Linked DNA regions of Homo sapiens: region 2 is linked to region 1. Evidence: fine-mapped QTL for protein levels in blood plasma. A gene starts in region 1. The other region holds a variant in brackets. All regions are shown on one strand. Distances are between the middles of the regions.

The links. PIP is the posterior inclusion probability: the model's chance that the variant is causal. Protein levels are from antibody-based Olink assays in UK Biobank. Linkage for the fine-mapping came from a reference panel and not from the study's own genotypes, which makes the PIPs less certain.
Region 2: its variant is fine-mapped to the plasma level of the KLK10 protein (UK Biobank, PIP above 0.99).

Annotation. Positions count from the first base shown.
Region 1 is chr19:51,014,752-51,023,874 of GRCh38, forward strand. It overlaps KLK10 (kallikrein related peptidase 10), which reads right to left and starts at 4,958. Exons shown (of 6, transcript NM_145888.3): 1 at 4,876-4,958; 2 at 4,292-4,388; 3 at 2,359-2,539; 4 at 1,131-1,405; 5 at 666-799; 6 at 1-201. The coding sequence starts at 4,379. The coding sequence ends at 49. It overlaps KLK11 (kallikrein related peptidase 11), which reads right to left. Exons shown (of 6, transcript NM_001136032.3): 5 at 8,341-8,477; 6 at 7,485-7,946. The coding sequence ends at 7,794.
Region 2 is chr19:50,981,502-50,994,042 of GRCh38, forward strand. It overlaps KLK7 (kallikrein related peptidase 7), which reads right to left and starts at 2,416. Exons shown (of 6, transcript NM_005046.4): 1 at 2,350-2,416; 2 at 826-956; 3 at 266-413. The coding sequence starts at 898. RefSeq lists an enhancer at 2,151-2,705 and a silencer at 8,958-9,158. The variant A/ATT (reference allele first, on the strand shown) is at 3,979.

The sequences.
Region 1 (9,123 bases):
GATCAGCAGGAGCATAACATCTGGATCAGCTGGAGCGTAGCATCTGGATCAGTTGGAGCGTATGACTTTATTGATCCAGGACATGTATTTGCAGATCTGGGTGTAGACAGCTGGATGCTGGGCAGAGCCACAGGGGTAAACACCCCACGAGAGGATGCCTTGGAGGGTCTCGTCACAGACCAGGGGGCCTCCAGAGTCACTCTGGGGGTGGCAGGAAGGAGAGATCAAATAAATGTGCCAACGTGAGAGCTGTCACTTTGGGATCTGGGGCAGTGGTGGGGAAGGAAGGAGTTGGGTTGGGATAAAGACGAGGATGGGATGGGGTTGGAATTAGGTATGAGCTGGAAGGTAGGAATGGAGGTGGACTTCAGGTTATGGGAGGTTGGGCTGGGGGATGAGAATGAAGGCACAGTGAGACTGGGGTTGGGATTGTAGTTCATGGAAGGTGAGGGGATGAAAATGGGCTTGGAGATGGGAATGGGGTGGGGTTGGGATGGAAATGGGATTGAGGATAGGGATGAGGAGGGGGTTAGGTCTGGGTAAGAGTTGGGGTCAAGGATGGGTTTGGGAATGGAGTTGGGGATCGGGCACAGGGTCTGCTCTTTTCCCATAACCTCCCTGTCCTCCCTCCCAGGAGTCAGAGACTCTCCCTGTTCAGACCCTACCTGGCAAGGGTCCTGGCCCCGGTCCAGTCCAGCACATATCATGTTGTTGGTGACCACGCCAGGGTAGAAGACCTCACACTCTTTAGGGCTCAGGATAGTGATGCTGGAGCAGGTCAGGCCCTTGTTGTACTTCACTGAAGGGAGAATATGCCAGTAATCCCTGGGTCCAGCCCCCAATCCTTGGGGAGCCAGGAGTCCAGATACAAGACCGTTTCTATCCTAAGCCCCAGCCCCTCCTCCTTCAGACTCAAGAATCCTGGCCCCAGCCCCTCCCCACTTAGACCCAGGAGTCCAGGCCCCCAGCCCCTCCTCCCCTCAGACTCACAGACCCAGGCATCTAGGACCCCAGCCCGTCCTCCCTCAGATCCAGGAATCCAGTCCCCAGCCCATCCTTCCTCAGACCCAGGGGTTCAGGCCCTCAGCCCCCTCCTCCTGAGGTTCCGGCCTCAGAGCCCCAGCTCTTGCCTCTCCGGGCGGCCGTGGTGCCCCAGCCAGCAACCTGGCACTGGTCTCCGGGCTGAGCACAGCGGTAGGGAAGCTGCAGGGCCCGGACGCGGGGCCCCAGCACTACGGGCCTGGCCAGCTTCAGCAACATGAGATCGTGCTCATCCGTTCGCCTTGGCAGGATGGGGCCTGAGCCCTGGTGGTACTTGGGATGGACAACAGAGCGAGTGGTCCGGCGGAGCTGCTCTCCCTGAAGAAGCAGCAGGTGGTCATCCCCTACTCGAGCCCACAGTGGCCTGGGGGAAGGAAGAGGCATGTGAAGGCAAACCCTTCATAGGGACTGGGAAAGCAGGTGGGCAGTGACGCAGGGCCTGGAGATAGGAAGAGTCTGAGGGAAGAGGGCCTTGTGGGAGAAGGGGACCTCAGTGGACATGGGGAGGAGGAATCAGTTGTTTGAGCTCTGAGGATCTGTAGGAATTGAGGAGGGCTGGGGGCCTGGACACCTAGGTAAGCCTTCCACATTTTCTTTTCTCTTTTTCTTTTCTTTGTTGAAACAGAGTTTCGCTCTTGTCACCCAGGCTAGAATGCAATGGCGCAATCTCGGCTCACTGCAACCTCCACCTCCCAGGTTCAAGCAGTTCTCCTGCCTCAGCCTCCTTCCTGAGTAGCTGGGATTACAGGCACCCACCACCACACCCAGCCTTTTTTTTTTTTTAATTTTTTTAAAATTTTTTATTTTTTATTTTATTTTATTTTTAGTTGAGAAGTGGTTTCACCATGTTGGCCAGGCTGGTCTTGAACTCCTGACCTCAGGTGATCCACCCGCCTTGGCCTCCCAAAGTGCTGGGATTACAGGCGTGAGCCACCGAGCCCAGCCCAACTCCACATTTTCTCTGTGGTAATACCCAACCCTTCCTCCTTCAACGGGGACTCACGAAGTGAACCTTTTCCTTTAGTTCTAAATTCCTGACCACACCGGACCCTGGCTTCTATCCGTTGCAGGCAACCACCTCCTCCTAGAGCTCAAGGAGAATCAGCGGGAGAGGAGTGACGGGCCCAGAAATGCGGAAAAGGACCACACCGCCCCCTGGCGGCCACAGCGCAAGCCCGGTCTCTCCTCCTGCTGGAAGGACACCGGGGACCGCACCTCCAGCTGTGGGAGTTCCGAGAGACCCCGCCCTGCCCGCTCCTCCCTGGAGGCCGCCTCCACAGCCCCCCGTGGCGTCCTCGGGGATGGATCTCCTCCTACTTGTTTCCGCAGTGCGCGGCCGTCAGCACCCAACTCTGGTCCACCAGGACACCCGCGCAGTGGAACGAGAGGCCGTTGAAGAGCGAGACCTGCCAGGGCTGCGAGCCGCGCGCGCACGGGGAGCCATAGGCTTCGGGGTCCAAGCGCGTGTCGTTTTGGGGGAGCAGCGCCGCCTCTGCGGCTGGAGAAAGAAAGGGGACGGAATCAAAGCACGGAGGGCAGGGTCTGGGTTTGGGGTTGGAGCTGGGCTGTGGCACTGGACTGCGTTCGGGGACGGGGGACGCAGCCAGAACGCGAGGGTGGTAGGGAAATATTGGGGGTTTCGCGTGCACCGAAGGGAATGGGAGGAGAAGAAGCGCGTGAAAGTGGAAGGAAGCTGGGATAGGGTAGCGTGGAGTAATGAGACAGAATAGGGTGGGTCTGGAGGGCAGGGACTGAACGCAGCGCGCCTGGAGAGCTGGCTAGAACGTCGCTGGTCGATAGAGGGGCGGGGATTGAACGCGGCGGGGAGGTAAGGGTGCGGGGATAGAACTCGGGGATCGGGGAGAGGAAGGGGTGTGAATAACAAAACGGGATTGAAAACCAGGAGAGGGGTGGGGCGCAGTGGTTTACGCCTGTAATCCCAGCACTTTGGGAAGCCGAGGCGGTTGGACCGCTTGAGCTCGGGAATTCAAGACCAGCCCGGGCAACACAGCAAGACCCAGTCTCTACAAAAACAAACAAACAACAACAACAACAACAAAAAAGTAGTCGCGGAGGCATGCGCCTGTAGTCACAGCTACCTGGGAGGCTGAGGTGGGAGGATCGCTTGAGCCCAGGAGGTGGAGGTTGCAATGAGCCGAGATTGGGCCACTGCACTCCAGTCTGGGCGACAGAGTGAGACCCTGTCTCAAAAAAAAAAAAAAAAAAAAAAAAAGCCGGATGTGGTGGTGCATGCCTGTGGTACCAGCTACTCTGGAGGCTGAGTATCGCTTGAGCCCAGGAGGTCGAGGCTGCAGTGAGCTCTGATTGGGCCACTGTACTCCAGCCACGGAGACAGAGCACTGCCCTGTCTCAAAAAAAAAAAAAAAAAAAAAAGAAGGAAAGAAAAAGAGAGAGAAAGAAAAAAACAAGAAAGAAAGAAGAAAAAATAAGAGAGAAAGTAAAACAAGAAAGAAGAAACAAACGAAAGGAAGGAAGGAAAGGAAGGAAGGAAAAGAAGAACGAAAGAAAGAAAAGAAAGAAAGAAAAAGAAAAAAGAGAGAGAAAGGGAAAGAGGAAGAAAAAAAGTGAGGGGAGAGGGCAAAAAGCGGTAAGGCAAGACTCAGGATAAAACACGGTGGTGTGGCCGGGAGCGGTGGCTCACGCTTGTAATCCCAGCACTTTGGGAGGCCGAGGCAGGCGGATCACGAGGCCAGGAGATCGAGACCACGGTGAAATCCCATCTCTACTAAAAATACAAAAAACTAGCCGGGCTTGGTGGCGGGCGCCTGTAGTCCCAGCTACTCGGGAGGCTGAGGCAGGAGAATGGTGTGAACCCGGGAGGCGGAGCTTGCAGTGAGCCGAGATCGCGTCACTGCACTCCAGCCTGGGCGACAGAGCGAGACTCCGTCTCAAACAAACAAACAAACAAAACAAAACACGGTAGTGTAAAATGGAGCGGGGCCGGGATGGGGCGGCGTAAGAGGAGGAGAAAGAACGCGGCGAAGAGTCCACGGAAGAGCGAGGATCCGGGTGGCAGAAATCGGACAGGGCCTGAGTGGGGCGGGTCACCCAGGGGCCGAGCCAGAAGAAGGGCCCAGCTGACTTGGGGGCGGGCCGTGCTCCGGAGCGCTGGGTGGGTGCTGGGGTCTCGGGGGAGGAGAGGTGCGCGGGGCTTGGTGACGGGAACACATTCTCCTCCCGCCCGTGCCTCCCACCGGCGCCTCTCCCCGCCCCCTGCCCCCGACCTTACCCCAGAGTTGCGCCATCAGCAGCGGCAGCAGCTTCGCCAGAGCCCGGGCGCCAGAGGCGGCGGAGAGGTGGAGGTGCGGAGCTCTCATGGCCAGGATCTGCTGGGGTGTGTGCAGGGGCGGGTTAAAACAGATGCTCCGTTAGAGACCCCCACCTCGCCGCGCTCATCCGCCCAGCCTGGGCCACCCCAGCCCGCAAGCACCCTTTTGACCTGCAGCCGATAACCCCAGGGGCTGGCAGACGGGAGATTCGGGCTGGAACAGCGGTAATGGGCACAATTACCCTAATGACGCCCCTCGCGGCATCTTCCCGTCCTCCCTGTGCCCGAGTGGAGCGCTCTCCGCGCCCCAGCTACCCTGGCTGCAGCCACGCCGCGCCCGAGGTTTCCCCCTCCTTCACGCGCGGGGTGGGGATCCGAGGCTCGGAGCCAGTGGGAGCCTCTTTCTCAACCTCACAGCGGGGGGACTTCCGCGTCCCGCAGGTGGAGAAACCGAGGCTCTAAGCCGGCTCCTGCCTGTGGCCCGGGGGTCCCCACCCATCCTCTCGCAATCCACCCCAACCCGGGTGGGGTGCAGGTAGCTTCACCTGGGAGTCGCCGATAGGAAGGAGGGAGGGGACCCAGACGTGCCTCTGCCCTGCCTGTGGTCTGCCGCTGGTATCCTCTGCCCAGGGACCCCTGGCGGGACCTTCCCTTTTAACCCCAAGGAGTCCGGAAGCTTCTCCACCCTCCCCTACCCCCACCCCCGGGCTCCCTCCCTTTCCCTCTGTCTAATTGTACCGTGGGTGAGGCTGGCACTCCTGGGTCCCAGATTCCTGCTCTGGGAGGGGCCCTGGAATACAGGCTTCTCCCAGTGCCCGAAACGCCCCCTTTTCATCCCTTTTGGAACTGGCTTCCGTGGGGATTCTCCGGGTCCCGGTGCCAAGAAGGCTTCCCAGGCGCGGGGAGAGGGTTCACGTCCCCAGCAAGGCTAGGGGTGGCAGGATGAGAGGCCACTGAGCAAGAGGAAATCAATGGGAAGTGCATACCTAGAGTGACAATGTGAGAAGCCAGACTGTGGAAGAGGAAGGAGGAAGGCCTAGAGATAAAGCAGGTTGAGTAGGAGGGACAGAGGCTGGCTTGAAAAGGGAGATTGTAACAAACCAAGGCTAAAAGAGCCAGAGAGAGAGAGAGAGAGAGAGAGAGAGAGAGAGAGAGGGAGGGAGGGAGGCGCCGAGGCTAAGAGAAACAGAAACAAGGAAAAAGGGAAACCCACGCCCACTCTGTGGCCGTGAGTGAGCTCTGTGTGTGTCCCAGTGACTAGCCCATGTGCGTGTTGGGGGGGGCTGTGGCTCTGCCTCATACCCATGTGTGGCCATCTCACACCCTCCCTGCCATCTGTGTGCCACCAGGTGACACACAGGCCCCTGAATCATAGGAGGTCAAAGCTGTGAGGGGCATCGGCATCACCTCAGCCAACTCCCTCATCTCAGGTGAGGAGTGAGAGGCTCAGAGAGGGCAGAGACTCACAGGAGGTCACACAGCAAGTCCACTTGACAACCAGAAGGCCCTGGTTCCACTCTGGGCTCCTATTGCTCATGCCAGCCACTTCTGCGAGGTGAACAGACCATCCCAAAAGATCCTGAGCTGGCCGGGCGCGGTGGCTCACGCCTGTAATCCCAGCACTTTGGGAGGCCAAGGGGGGGCGGATCACGAGGTCAGGAGTTCGAGACCAGCCTGGCCAACATAGTGAAACCCCATCTCTACTAAAAAGACACAAAAATTAGCTGGGGATGTTGGCACAGGCCTGTAGTCCCAGCTACTAGGGAGGCTGAGGCAGGAGAATTGCTTGAACCTGGGAGGCAGAAGTTGCAGTGAGCCGAGATCACGCCACTGCACTCCAGCCTGGGTGACAGAGCAAGACTCTGTCGCAAAGAAAAAAAAAAAAAAAGATCCTGAGTTCTGGATTCTCTCCGTGGGACATCCTCTTCAGAGGCCATCTAACTCAGTGCTGCTCAGCTGAACTTTCTGCAGTGATGTTTTATATGCACTAGCTAATCCAGCCACCACCAGTCACATGTGGCTATCCAGCCTTGGAGATATAACAAGTGAGACAGAGGAGTTACATTTCTGGCTTTATGTAATTTTAATTGGAAGAGCCAGCTGCGGTTAGTGGCTACCATATTGGCCAGCAGAGGTCTCCACTATCTAATTACCTATCATGGAAGTTGGAGAAAAACAATAAGCTCCTTTGGTTAGGTCTTAGTATGTGCAGGCTAACTGACTTCTTTACTTACTGTGTTATACTTTTGCATGCAGCATTTTACAGGAAAGGAAACAAACAGAGCCTTACTCCAGGAACATCACTTGGTAATTAAGAGATCGCCTTGCTTCAGATCCTTGCTCTCCTAGCCACGTGACTGTGAGCAAGTGACTTTGCTTCTCTGTGTCTGTTTCTTCAACTATAAAATAGGTATGAAAACAGTACCGACCTCACAGGGTTTTGTGAGGATTAAGTTGATACATTTGAAAGTGCTTGGAGGCCAGGCACAGCGACTCATGCCTGTAATCTCACCACTTTTGGAGGCTGAGGAGGACAGACTGCTTGAGCCCAGGAGTTTGAGACTAGCCGGGGCAACATACTGAGACCTCTGTCTCTACGAAAAATACAAAAATTAGCTGGGCTTCGTGGCATGTGCCTGTAGTCCCAGCTACTCTGGAGGCTGAGGGAGGACAATCACTTGACCCCAGGAAATTGAGATTGCCGTGAGCTGTGATTGTTACTGCACTCCAGCCTGGGCAACAGAGCAAGACTGTCTCCTAAATAGATTAATTAATTTAATTTCTTTTAATTAATAAATGAAAGCCGGGCGGGCGCGGTGGCTCACGTCTGTAATCCCAGGAGTTTGGGAGGCCAAGGAGGGCAGATCATCTGAGGTCAGGAGTTCGAGACCAGCCTGGCCAACATGGTGAAGCCCCATCTCTACTAAAAAATACAAAAATTAGCCGGATGTGGTGGTAGGCACCTGTAATCCCAGCTATTCAGGAGGCTGAGGCAGGAGAATTGCTTGAACCCAGGAGGTGGAGGTTGCAGTGAGCAGAGATAGCACCACTGTACTCCAGCCTGGGTGACAGAGCGAGACTCTGTCAAAAAATAAAATAAAATAAAAGCCATTGGATCAGGGTCTAGCACATAGTAAGCACTCAGTAGATTCACTCATTTAGCAAATATTTATTGAAACCTTGATATATGGCCAGGAGCTGTCTTTGGGGCTGGGGATACAACAGAGAACAAACCAGGTGTTGTCATTCCCAGAGTCACAATATTTCAAGGCAGAATTTGAATCCAGGTCTCACTGATTTCGAACCCCAGGTTGATTATTAAGTGACAGCATCTCCTGTAGTCCAGGAGGCCCAAAGAATGTTCGTAGAGGGTCTTGGCTTAGGGTTTCTTATTAACAGAGTGAACAGGAACCAAACACCAAGTGGAAATGGAGGGTGATGGGCTGTGGTGGGTGGGTCCAGTCTAATTGTTCTTCATCGTCTCCTGGATCCAGTCCACATATTTGCAGACTTTCGTGTAGACACCAGGCTTTCGGGTGATCGCACACGGATCCTGGCCCCAGGAGATAATGCCTTGAAGAGACTGGTTACAGACCAGAGGGCCCCCGGAGTCACCCTGGGCACGGGGAGAGAGAATGTCGGTCAGAGAAAGCGTTGAGCATGGTGTTAGCCAGGGAGGAGGTGGGGACGGTGCTTAGGAGTGGGGCCGAGACAGGATGGGTAGGCACTGGGAAAGGTGATAGGTTTAGCGATAAAGCTGGGATTATGGGTGGGATAAAGGATGGGGTTAGGCTCAAAAACGAGTTTGGGGATGGTTGGAGCTGGAAATGGTGTGGAAACGGGGATGGAGCTGAAGTTTGTGCTGAGGTCAGAAACGGGAACAGGGGAAGAGATGGATTGGGAGTTGCAGGGGTCGGCGGGTTGAGGTTGGGGATGAAATTGTGGATGTCGGTAAAGATGTCATTGAAGCTGGGGATGGGGATGGGGCTGTGGTTGGAGACCACACTGACCTGGCAGGAGTCCTTGCCCCCTTCCTGCACGCTGGCACACACCATGGTGTCTGTGATGTTGCCGGGGTAGGCGTTCTCACACTTCTGGTGCTCAATGATGGTGATGTTGGCGCATCGCAAGGTGTGAGGCAGGCGTACTGTGGAAACAGCGTGAGGGGCTGTGGGAATGAGCCCCCTGCCACCTCCCCTAATGCAGTGCTTGCTGTGATCCCGCCCCTGGGGGAATCCCTGTCCTTAGACGCAGCCAACTCACCTCTCTTCTTGTAACAATAGCAACAGCAATGCTATCCAGCTTTTTTTTTTTTTTTTTCGAGACAGAGTCTTGCTCTGTTGCCCAGGCTGGAGTGCAGTGGCGTGATCTTGGCTCACTGCAACCTCCGTCTCCCAAGTTTAAGCGATTCTCCTGCCTCAACCTCCCGAGTAGCTGGGATTACAGGCGCACACAACCACGCCCAACTAATTTTCACATTTTTAGTAGAGATGGGATTTCACCACGTTGGCCAGGCTGGTATCAAAGTCCTGACCTCAGGTGATCTTCCCACCTCGGCCTCCCAAAGTGCTGGGATTACAGGCGTGAGCCACGGTGCCCAGCCTGCTATCCAATAAATGATTTATGTCAGTTGCTTGATATACATTATCTCTAATCCAATCCTGACAGGTGGGTATAATCATTCTCATTTTATAGAGAAGAAAATCAAGATTCAGAGAGGTGAAGCTGCTTGCCTAAGGTCTTACAACCAGGAGGTTATGGATGTATGATTGCATATCCCGTCCGTCTGACTC
Region 2 (12,541 bases), 32 kb before region 1:
TAGAGAGAATGGGGGACAGAGACACAGAGAGAGGGGAACAGAGATCCAGAGAGAGGGGGACAGAGACCCAGAGAGAGGGAGACAGAGAGCCAGGGAGAGAGGGGGACAGAGCCCCAGGGAGAGGGGGTACAGAGGCCCAGAGAGAGGAGGACAGAGACCCAGAGAGAGGAGAATAGAGCCGTAGGCACAGAAAGACTGCCCTTCCACCCCCATAGCGAGCTGGAGACGCTGGTGCACCTCCAGCAGAGACTTGGGCGGCACCTACTTCATCTTGCAGTGGGCGGCAGTGAGCACCCAGCGCTCATTGACCAGGACGCCTCCGCAGTGGAGCTGATTGCCACTGAGCAGGGCCACCTGCCATGGGTGGGAGCCTCTTGCACATGGGGCGCCATCAATAATCTTGTCACCCTGGGCTGGATGGAGACATGGAGGAGCACGTGGGTAGCTAGCATTAGGGGAAGGCTGAGGCTGCACCTCAGGGATTCCCAGAGTCAGAGATGGACAGAGACAGATGAAAATGTGTGGAGAAATACAGAGAAAGCAAGAGATAGGGATAGAGACAGACAGAAGGAGCCCACTCAGAAACCCAGGAGGCGCATCTCATCTGGGGAACCACAGAGAGACCCTGAGCACAGGAGGCAGGGCCTGGAGGGGACAGAGACCCCCTGAGTCAGCAGAAGCAGGAAGAGCGGGGGCTTCAGCCGACAGTCTGGTCCTCCCAGGATGGAAGCTGTTTGAGGAGGGAAGGGTTCTGACTCAGGGACTCCTTGGAGAGGGTCAGTGGGGGCCCTGAGGTGAGGTCAGACTTCCCAGTCCAGCTTTCACCTTCTTCTCCTGCAGTTTCCAAGGCTAAGGATAGCAGTAAGATCTGCAGGGGCAGGAGAAGGGATCTTGCCATGGTGCCCTGCTGAGCCGCTCAGGGGCTGCCAGGCGAGGAAGGGCCTCTCCTGCTGGAGCTGAGAAGGAGAAAGCATTCAGGCCCAGCCCCTCCCCACTCAGACCCAGGGGTCCAGGCCCCAGCCCCTCCCCCCACAGACCCAGGAGTCCAGGCCCCAGCCCCTCCTCCCTCAGACCCAGGGGTCCAGGCCCCAGCCCCTCCTCCCTCAGACCTAGGGGTCCAGAACCCCAGCCCCTCCTCCCTCAGACCCAGAAATTCCTTTCTCTGGCCTCTCCTTCCTTACACTCAGAAGTCCAGACCCCTAACCTCCTCCTCCCTCATACCCAAGAGTCCAGACCCTAGCACCTTCCTCCCTCAGACCCAGGAGTCCAGGCCCCCAGCCCCTCCTCCCTCAGACCTAGGAGTCCAGGCCCCCAGCTCCTCCTCCCTCAGACCTAGGAGTCCAGGTCCAAGTCCCTCCTCCCTCAGGCTCAGGAGTCCAGGCCCCAACCCCTCCTCCCTCAGACCCAGGAGTCCAGGCCCCCAGCCCCGCCTCCCTCAGACCTAGGAGTCCAGGCCCCCAGCTCCTCCTCCCTCAGACCTAGGAGTCCAGGTCCAAGTCCCTCCTCCCTCAGGCTCAGGAGTCCAGGCCCCAACCCCTCCTCCCTCAGACCCAGGAGTCCAGGCCCCAGCCCCTCCTCCCTCAGACCCAGGAGTCCAGGCCCCCAGCTCCTCCTCCCTCAGACCCAGGAGTCCAGGTCCCAGTCCCTCCTCCCTCAGACCTAGGAGTCCAGGTCTCAGTCCCTCCTCCCTCAGGCCCAGGAGTCCAGGCCCCAGCCCCTCCTCCCTCAGACCCAGGAGTCCAGGCCCCAGCCCCTCCTCCCTCAGACCCAGGAGTCCAGGCCCCAGCCCCTCCTCCCTCAGACCCAGGAGTCCAGGCCCCAGCCCCTCCTCCCTCAGACCCAGGAGTCCAGGCCCCAGCCCCTCCTCCCTCAGACCCAGGAGTCCAGGCCCCAGCTCCTCCTCCCTCAGACCTAGGAGTCCAGGTCCCAGCCCCTCCTCCCTCAGACCCAGGAGTCCAGGCCCCCAGCCCCTCCTCCCTCAGACCCAGGAGTCGAGACCCCCAGCCCCTCCTCCCTCAGACCCAGGAGTCCAGGCCCCCAGGCCCTCCTCCCTCAGACCCAGGAGTCCAGAACCCCAGCCCCTCCTCCCTCAGACCCAAAATTCCTGTTCTTCAGATCCCTAGAGACCCAGGAATCTAGGCTCCGATCTTGCCCTTCCCTGTGGAACCCAAACTTCTGACTCTGTAGTTCGTTTTTCCCTAAAAGGCCCCAAATTGCAGACTTCCAGGCCCTCACTGCTCAGGACCGGGAGTCTAGGCTGCAGCCCCTACCTCTCGAGAGCAGAGTCAGGCTTGGAGCCAGCATCACCCTCTCCCCTACAGGTGCACCCTTGATGAAGCCTCTTCTCACCTCGAGAGGATCTGATGTGATCCAAGTTCCGACTTGGGCTGGCACACAGCTGGGCTCCAAAATCTTCATCCCTCTGCTGGGCCGTCCTCTTATATCACCCCCCGCCCCATGCCCGGCCCCAGCGCCCTGGGGTGCAGGCGGAGCCGACTCTGGGACACCCCCGCCTGCATTTGCGGTTCTGGTTATCTGGAACCCTGACGCAGCGAGAGCAATTGGCACCACTGCACTCTCTCTCCACCCTCCCTCCGAAGGACGGGCGGTGCCCAGCTCCTGCGCCCCCGCACATTCTGGTCCCACAGTCCCTCCTGGCTGCTCTCGGGGGAGGGACCCGGTGCGCTGGGTCTGAGGGGCAGGAGCGGGATTCAAGCAGTCGCTGAGCTCAGAGAATAGGCTCTGGCTCGGGTCCTTCTCTGGGGCGGTTTTCTTTCTTTCTTCCCTCCTCCCTCCCTCCCTTCCTTTCTTTTTTTTGGATGGAGTCTCTCTCTATCGCCAGGCTGGAGTGCGGTGGCGCGATCTCGGCTCACTGCCAGCTCCGCCTCCCAGGTTCAAGTGATTCTCCTGCCTCAGCCTCCCGAGTACCTGGGATTACAGGCACGCACCACCACTCCCAGCTAATTTTTGTATTTTTAGTAGAGACCGGGTTTCACTATGTTGGCCAGAATGGTCTCGATCTCCTGACCTCATGATGTGCCCGCCTCGGCCCCGCAAAGTGCTGGGATTACAGGCGTGAGCCACTGCGCCCGGCTTCTGGGGCCATTTTCTTGCCCTCACCCCCTCTCAGGGGTGGCCTAGACCCTACATCCTAATTCTGGCCCGCCTGGGGGAACTTGTCCAAGCTGATCCCAGTCGTGCCTGTAATTACGCCTGAACCCATTCCCAACTCTAACAGAGAGGTGTAAGTTAAAAACAACGCTTTCCCTAACCCCACCCCACTAATATTTGCCATGTTTAGGATCTATGTTCTTATGGTCATTTTAATCATGTTATACATAGATTTCTTTGTATATTATGTATTTATAACAAAAATGTCTGTACTTAACATTATCTAATAGAACATTTTTGAGGGCTTCATTTATTAATTTATAAGCAAATATTTATTTTTCTTTTTTTAACTTTTCAGTTCGGGGGTACATGTGCAGGATGTGCAGGTTTGTTGCGTAGGTGAACGTGCGCCATGGGGGTTTGTTATACAGATTATTTAATCACCCAGGTATTAAGCCTAGTACCCATTAGTTATTTTTTTCTGATCCTCTCCTTCCTCCCACTCTCCACCCTCTCATAAGCCCCAGTGTGTGTACCCAAAGGAATATAAATCATTCTGTTTAAAGACACATGGACACGTACGTTCATTGTAGAACTATTGACAACAGCAAACACAGGGAATCAACCTAAATGTCCATCAGTGATAGACTGGATTAAGAAAATGTGGTACGTATACACAATTGAATACTACGTAGCCATAAAAAAGAACACGATCATGTCCTTTGTAGGGACGTGAATGGAGCTGGAGGCCATTACCCTTACAAACTAAAGCAGGAACAGAAAACCAGATATGGCATGTTCCTACTTACAAGTGGTAGCTAAATGATGAGACTGCATGGACACATAGAGGAGAGAAGAATCTTTCTT[A/ATT]TTTTTTTTTTTTTTTGATGGACTCTGGCTCTGTCACCCAGGCTGGAGTGCAATGGCACGATCTCGGCTCACTGCAACCTCCACTCCCCCGTGTTCAAGTGATTCTCCTGCCTCAGAGTCCTGAGTAGCTGGATTACAGGCGTGCACCACCATGCCCAACTAATTTTTGTATTTTTAGTAGAGATGGGGTTTCACCATGTTGGTCAGGCTGCTCTCCAACTCCTGACCTCAGGTGATCCACCGGCCTCGGCCTCCCAAAGTACTGCGATTATAGGCCTGAGCCACCGCGCCCAGCCAAGGATTTTTGCTAAATGAGTAGATTATAGCTGCTCTTGCCACAGGGGAGGAAAATGGGTAACTATGTGAGATGATGGACATGTTCATTTGTTCAGCTATAGTAATCATTGTCCTATGTATATACATCGCATATGATCATATTGTACACTTTAAATATACACAATAACATTTATTTTTTAAAAAGAGGAAAACTTTTCCCTCTTTGTACATTTAGATTACTTTTCCTTCCTTTATAATGGTTGTGTAATATTCCATACTATACTTGTATCATGATGCATGTCATCTGCCTCAAATTGAAATACACTTGGATAGTTTTAATTATAATAATGCTGAGATGAACTTCTTTGTACATTCATCTTTGTTCATTGTAGTCATTCAAACAGCATCCATTGAGCATCTACTCTGTGCCAGAAACTATTCAGGCTCTTGGAGACACAGCAGTGATAAAACAGAGAAAAATTTCTGTCTTCATAGAGGTTTTTGTTTTGTACTGTCAGGTCAGCACAAAAATAAGCAAATAAAATGTAGAGTTTGTTAGGTGGTTGTAAGCGCTATAAGGGAAAATCCAAGCAAGGAAGAGGGTTGGGGAGTTACTGATTCCCTCTACCCTCGAGGATCCCTGAGGTTATAATATCAGGAAGGTTGGCTGCAAAGACCCCACGTGAAGGTGATATTTGAGCAAAGTCTTGAAGGAGATGGTGGAGGGATCCAGGTGGCTGCTTGAAGGTAGTGAGTTCCAGGCAAAGCGAGCAGGCAGGTGTGTTAGCCAAGGAGCATATCTGAAGTGCCTCAGCAGACAAATCACTGCGACCAATACAGAGTGACCAAAGGAGATGAGGGCAGGTGATGAGGCCAGAAATATAACAGGACTCTGATGACATGCGGTCTGAAAGGTCTTTGGCTTTTATTTTGAGTAAGACAGGAACCATTGTTGGACACACTTCTAAAGTTGGAATTGACCTCAACCTCTAAATTATATCCCCAAAATGGGATTTATTTCTCCACCCTGGACCTAAAACTTATCTCAATCCTGACCCCAACTCAATTCTTTTTTTTGCTTTGTTTTGTTTTGTTTTTGTTTTTGAGATGGAGTTTTGATCTTATTGCCCAGGCTGGAGTGCAGTGGTGCGATCTCAGCTCACTGCAATCTCCGCCTTCCAGGTTCAAGCAATTCTCCTGACTCAGCCTCCCGAGTAGCTGGGATTACAGGCATGTACCATCACACTTGGCTAATTTTTTTTTTTTTTTTTTTTAGTAGAGATGGGGTTTCTCCATGTAGGTCAGGCTGGTCCCTAACTCCCGACCTCAGGTGATCTGCCTTCCTCAGCCTCCCAAAGTGCTGGGATTACATGTGTGAGCCACCACGCCTGGCACCCCAACTCGATTCTACATTTGACCCATAATAGTAGACATTATTGTTGTGTCCCCAGGCATTCACTCCTTCTGCCTTTCTATCAGAGGCTCCATTTTGTTTGGATAATACTTTATCCTCATCAGGACTATAAGCCTCAATGAACCAAGCATTGAAGCCATATTTCGTTTGCTTAATTAGTTGGAAAATGGACATGTGCTGTTCTTCTGGCCAATGAGGAGGAGGGGAAGACCACTGAGGCACTTCTAGGAAAGACTTTCTCATTTTCAAAAAGAGGCACTGAAAGGGGACTTTTTTCTTCTGCTAGATGGTGTCTTTTCTGGATGCAAATTCTGGAACTGTGGCAGCACCCCAGGGACCACAGAGGGAAGTGACCAGAGGACTAAGTCAAAACACTGCAGGTAGCCCACCAGAGAGGTGAGGATCAGCTGGGTCTTTGATGAAGTCACTGAGCTGGTGAATTAACCAACGATGGAGCCTCTTCATGTCATGATTTTTCAGATTCCCCTTCTGGGTTAGAGTTGCTTGGTCCTTGTAGCCAAAATCATCTTTATAAGACCTCAATGTTCAATCAGAATATTGACTCAGATCCCAAATCTGATCCCAAGCCACAAATCCAAATCCGATTCTAACTTGATTCCATATCTTGAAGCCACATAAATCAACAAACTCAACCATGCCTCCAGTCTTAGCTCTCTTCCCAACCCTCATCCCCATATCCCATTTCAGCCCATATCCCATTTTGGCCATTGTTAATGTGAAGATGACCAATTTAATTTTTAGAATAGTCTTTTTTAAAAAAACAAATTAGTAATTTGGATCCTATAGCTGACTACCTCTCATCTAAATTTAATTTTTTCTTAGTTTTTCTTCTATACAGTGGATTTCTTATTTTTTAGGGAAAAGTTGTTGATTGTTTATGCAATAGTTTAACACCAATCCTTTATATATTTAACAAATATGGATTGGGTGGTAGCTATCTACCAATGAGGATACAATGGTGTGCAAACCTAGATAGTGTCTCTTCCCTCAAGGAGCTGATAGTGTCATGTAAAAGAAATACAGTCAATTCATAAACAAGTGTAAAATTACAACTACAAGGCATGCTCTGAAAGACAGGTGCAGGGTATTATGAAGGCACTTCCAGAGGGGTTAGACCCAGGAATTGACTATGAGCTGAGATTTGAAAGAATATTAAACTAGAAGAAATCTTCTAGGAACTAGAAGTAGACTAGAAGAAATCTTCTAGTAACTAGAAATAGTAAACTAGAAGAAAATTTCTTCTGGTAACTAGAAGAAAATTTCTTCTGGTAACTAGAAGAAAATGGGAGGAGAATGGGGAGTGTGTTGTGTAGAGAAAAGAGCATGTGCAAAGGCCCAAGGCATTATTGCTGGAGCTCGGAGGCCAGAGGTTAACTGGGACCAGATAATGACGAGCTCTGTATGTCATTGTGAGTCTTGCTTTATCCTGTGGATAATGAAGAACTATTTGAACCTTAGTCAGAGAAATAACATAACAAGATTTGTATTTTCAAAACATCAACCTAGCTACTGTATGAAGGCTGGATTTGGGTGGGATGTGAAGATACTGGGCAACCATGGGGGAAGTCATTGTTGTTGTCTAGATGAGGGAAGATGGTGACTTGGATACAGGTGGTTGAAAGGTGGAGACGATGTTAAGTACATGGGTTCAAAATGCACTTAGGAGAGAGAATCAACAAGCCTTGGTGATGGATTGAATGAAGGTTGTGTTGAGGTAGTGGAAGATGTTAAGATTTCAAAGTCTGTTGCTCGATGGACAGTGATGCCATTCATTGAGAAGACATGGTAGATGTGGTCAAATGGTTCTGATATGACAAGAAAAGACCTCAGACCCTGACTTCAAGCAGAACCCTAAATCCAACCTTTACTTTGACACAACTCCCAACACGTATTTTGACATAAGCCCCAGCCTTTTTGTTTGTTTCAATAGCTTTCGGGGTACAAGTGGCTTTTGGTTACATGGATGTATCGTATAGCAGTGAAGTCTGAGATTTTAGTGCACCCATCACCCAAGTAGTGTATATTGTACCCAATATTTATAGTGTTTTATCCCTTATCCTCTTCATACCCTCCCCCTTCTGAGTCTCCAGTGTCCATTATACCACTTGGTACCCACTGCTTAGCTCCCACTTACACATGAGAACGTAAGGCATTTGGTTTTCCATTCCTGAGTTACTTCACTTAGAATAATGGCTTCCAACTCCATCCAAGTTGCTTCAAAAGACATTATTTGATTCTTTCTATGGTTGAGTAGTATTCCGTGGTGCATACACATCACATTTTCTTTATCCACTCATCAGTTGATGGGCACTTACTTTGGTTCCATATCTTTGCAATTGTGAATTGTACTGCGATAAACATACGTGTGTATGTGTCTTTTTGATATAGTGACTTCTTTTCCTTTGGGTAGATACCCAGTAGTGGGATTGCTGGATTGAATTGTAGATCTACTTTTAGTTCTTTGAGAAATCACCATACTGTTTTCCACAGAGGTTGTACTACTTTACATTCCCACCAGCAGTGTATAAGTGTTCCCTTTTCATCACATCCATGCCAACATCTATTGTTTTTTTGACTCTTTAGTAAGCCCCAGTCTTAACCCCAAACCTTAATCTGTACCCAATCCTGAACCTCAAATTCTGCTTTATCCTTGATGAACCCCAATTTGTATCTCAACCAATAACCTAAATCTTGACTGAGTTCTTGACTCCAAATATCAACTCAGGCTAGGATCCAGACCTCAATCAAACTTAACCCTCCTGACCCTTGACCTTAACCCTGAACCATTAGCCATAAGCCAAACTCAACCTTGACCTGAGCAGTGAATGTCACCATAGCCTGAGTATCAAGCCTGCCACGGGATAATTCAGACATTAGTCTCCATTCCCATCATATTCTAGGAAGCCCACATTCATATCCTCCCCCATGAACCCATTCCCTCACATCCAACACCAATTCTAACACTCTCACCCCATCCCACCCCTATTCTCATCCTCAACCCAATTGCTACCTAAAATCCCATTCTCATTTCCATCCCCAATTCTTTTCCCAGTTCCATTTTTATTTCTCCAGCTCACCACACAACTTTGACTCTTCATTTTACAAAAACTCTAAAATAAAGTCTGCCAACGAATATCTTGCTAACATTGATGCTATACTAACTCAACTCAAGCCGAGTCCCAAAATCTTCTGAGACATTTACTGTCATCGAATCCAAAATCAGATCCCCGAACTTGGACATCTAGCCCTGCCCATTCCACAGCAGCAATCTGGTCGTGAAGGGTGTCAACATTCCTGACCTGGGCTCCCAAATCAAGGAGAAGCAGACTCCAGCCCAGTTGACCTCACAGCTCCATGATTCAGCAATCTGTATCTTTCCTTCCTGGCTTCTCAAAGACAGAAATGGTAGCAAGACTTCCAGTGTATTATCTACTCCCTGCATCTTCATCCTTAGATTCTCTCCTCCCTCAGTCCTCTGCCTCCTTAGTATCTGTTAGAAAGAGGAAGGAGCCAGGCTACTCTAGAGCCCTGTTATTCACTCCTAAGTCACCAAAACGTCTATCCTCTGCTTTTCATCATCTATCATTCTGTAAATTATATTCCTAATTATTTAACCTGATTTTGTTGCCAAACACTGGTCATCACAAGCAGAGGAAATGTGTGTGGGGTTCTTTTTTTTTTTCCAGCACCCCGCCCAGACCGGAGAACACAGGAGGTACTTAAATAAATACTAGTCTGCAAACTTCTGGCATCCACAGGTCCACAGGCCTTAGATTCAGTCCTGCCTTGATCCCTGAGCTGTTCCACCATGCAGTGTGACAGAAAGAACTAGAAAGAACTTGGACTTTCAACCCAGCTTTGAATCCTGGTTGCCCACCCTGTGACTTCGGGTAAGTGACTTCATTTTTCTGAGTCAGACTTTGCCCCTCCCCAAAGTGGAGGAGAGCAAAACCTATTTACCGAGGCAAATGAGAGGATTAAATAAAATTATGAATGGAAAATTGATGGGCACATAACAGCCAGTGAATTAACATGAGTTCCCTCAGCCCATCACCCACGGAATGAAGAAGCAGCTCCCATTTTCCCCCCTACATTTAGTGTGGTGTGTCTGTATTCCTCACATTGGTCCAGGTGAGGATTGTCATCCCCATTTTACCTTTATTTTTTGCCGCCTGCCCCATCATCCCCATTTTATAGATGAGAAAATGGAGGTTTAAAAAAGGCTAGATCACTTGAGCAAAGTCACAGAGCTGAGGAGTCAGAAGTGTCAGAATTCAGCCAGGCGTGGTGGCTAAAGCCTGTAATCCCAACACTTTGGGAGGCCGAAGTGGATGGATCACTTGAGGTCAGGAGTTCGAGACCAGCCTGGCAAACATGGTGAAACCCCATCTCTACTAAAAATACAAAAAATTAGTCGGATGTGGTGGCATGTGCCTATACTCCCAGCTACTCAGGAGGCTGAGACAGGAGAATCACTTAAGCCAGTAAGCAGAGGTTGCAGTGAGCCGAGGTTGCACCACTGCACTCCAGCCTGGGTGACAGGGCAAGACTCCATCTCAGGAAAAAAAAAAAAAAAAAAGCCAGAATTTGAACATTGGGATTCAAAGGCCTATGGTATCACTACTGCACAAATCCATACTCTGAGAAGGAAATTTCCTTGTTACATCCACATGTACCCTCTGAGTCTCATTTGGTTCAAAACAGACTTGGATCGCCCTCAGCCTATTAATGATGCATACCCCCATGTCAGAGAGAGGCCCATATCCAGGCCCCCTGTGCCCTTTGCATTTAGTCCTGGCACCTGTTGCTAAGTGTCATCCAGACACCCAGCCCCATACCTCCATCGTCCTCAGACCTATGTCCTGAACCTTTGTTAAATGACTCATCTTCCACCTTATGATCACACCTGAGAACTGGCATCTGATAATCTTGCCAGCTATGCCTTTCCCTGAGGGATTCTGAACACTGTGACCCTCGTACCTCCTGACTCAGCCCATGGGTTCTGATGGCCCATTGTTTCATACTTCCTGGATTCTCTTCCTCCTTATTTCTTTCTTTCTTTCTTTTTTTTTTTTTTTTTTTTTTTTTTTTTTTTTTGAGACAGAGTCTCACTCTGTCACCCAGGCTGGAGTTCAGTGGTGCGACCTCAGCTCACTGCAACCTCCACCTTCCGGCAGAACCCCATTTCTTTTGGGGGAGATGCTGCCTTATTTCTTATAGTTCTGGTGAAACTGTCAATCGTAGTTCTCCAACTCCACCCACCCACTGAGGCGGAGAAATGACCCAGGCCAAGTCAACAAGATCAGTGTTTTCTCTCTGGCAACAATGATAGATTCAAGGGGTGGGCCCAGTTCAAACTGGACCAATTAGAGTTCCTCCCTGGGATTAATATCAAGATGCCAGGAGAAAGGAGATTTTTGTTTCTGTTAGTAGCTGCTATGTTCCCTCCATGCCCCTCCTTAGTACCTAAGATTGAGTAAATCAATCCCCAAGTCTTTTCAGGCTTATGTTCCACTGGAGACATTAAAGTATCTCCTGGACCAGCCTAGGCAACATGGTAGAGTCCTAGCTCTACTGAAAAAAAAAAAAAAATGGCTGGGCGTGGTGGCACATGCCTGTGGTCCCAGCTACTCAGGAGGCTGAGGTGGGAGGATGGCTGAAACCCAGGAGGTAGAAACTGCCTTAAGCATTGTTTGTGCAATGCTCACTGTACTGTAACCTGGGTGACAGAGTAAGACCTTGTCTCAAAAAGGAAAAAAATCTCCTTGGCATTGGATGATACTAAGAAAGTATCAACTGTGTAAGGTGTGATAATGTAAGTTGGTTATGTTTAAAACGAGTCTCTTTTGGAACAAGGATTGGCAAATTTTTAAAATAAAGGGCCAGAGAGTAAATATTTTAGCTTATGTGGACCAAGAGAGAAAAATGGAAGATATTATGTAGATATTTAATAGCAGGAAAGAAAATAAAATTTCACAATTTTTAATTGATGAAATTCAAAATGTAGTAATGATAATTTAGTACAAATTTTTTGTTGCTATTCCTTATCAAGCTCACGCCTGTAATCCCAGCACTTTTGGAGGTGGAGGCAGGCAGATCACTTGAGGTCGGGAGTTCAAGACCAGCCTGACCAACATAGAGAAACCTTGTCTCTACTGAAAATACAAAAAATTTTAGCCGGGCGTGATGGTGCATGCTTGTAATCCCAGCTACTCAGGAGACTGAAGCAGGAGAATTGCTTGAGCCAGGGAGGCGGAGGTTGCGGTGAGCCGAGATCACGCCATTGCACTCCAGCCTGGGCAACAAGAGCGAAACTCCATCTCAAAAAAAAAAAAAAAAAAAAAAAATTTAGCTCAGGAGATTTGGTCCAACAGCTGTAATTTGCCATCCCCTGTTTTAAAAATGCATAATAAAATATTTAAGAATGAGATGTTGTGGTGACTGAGATTGCTTCAAAATATTCTGGCATTAGGGAAGTGTGTGGTGGGAGTATAGGTGAAACAATAATTGGTTTTGCATTAACTTTTTTTTTGAGATAGGGTCTCACTCTGTTACCCAGGCTGGAGTGCAGTGGTACAATCATAGCTCATTGCAGTCTCAACCTCTCAGGCTCAAGTGATCCTCCCACCTCAGCCTCCTGAGTAGCTGGGACCACAGACGCATGCCACCATGCCCAGCTAATTTTTTAATCTTTTGTAGAGACCAGTCTCCCTATGTTGCCCAGACTGGTCTTGAATGCCTGGGCTCAAGCAATCCTCGTGCCTCGGCCTTTCAAAGTGCTGGGGTTACAGGCGTGAGCCACTGCACCGGACCTTGCATTCATTATCGAAGTTGGATGGTGGTATATGAAGA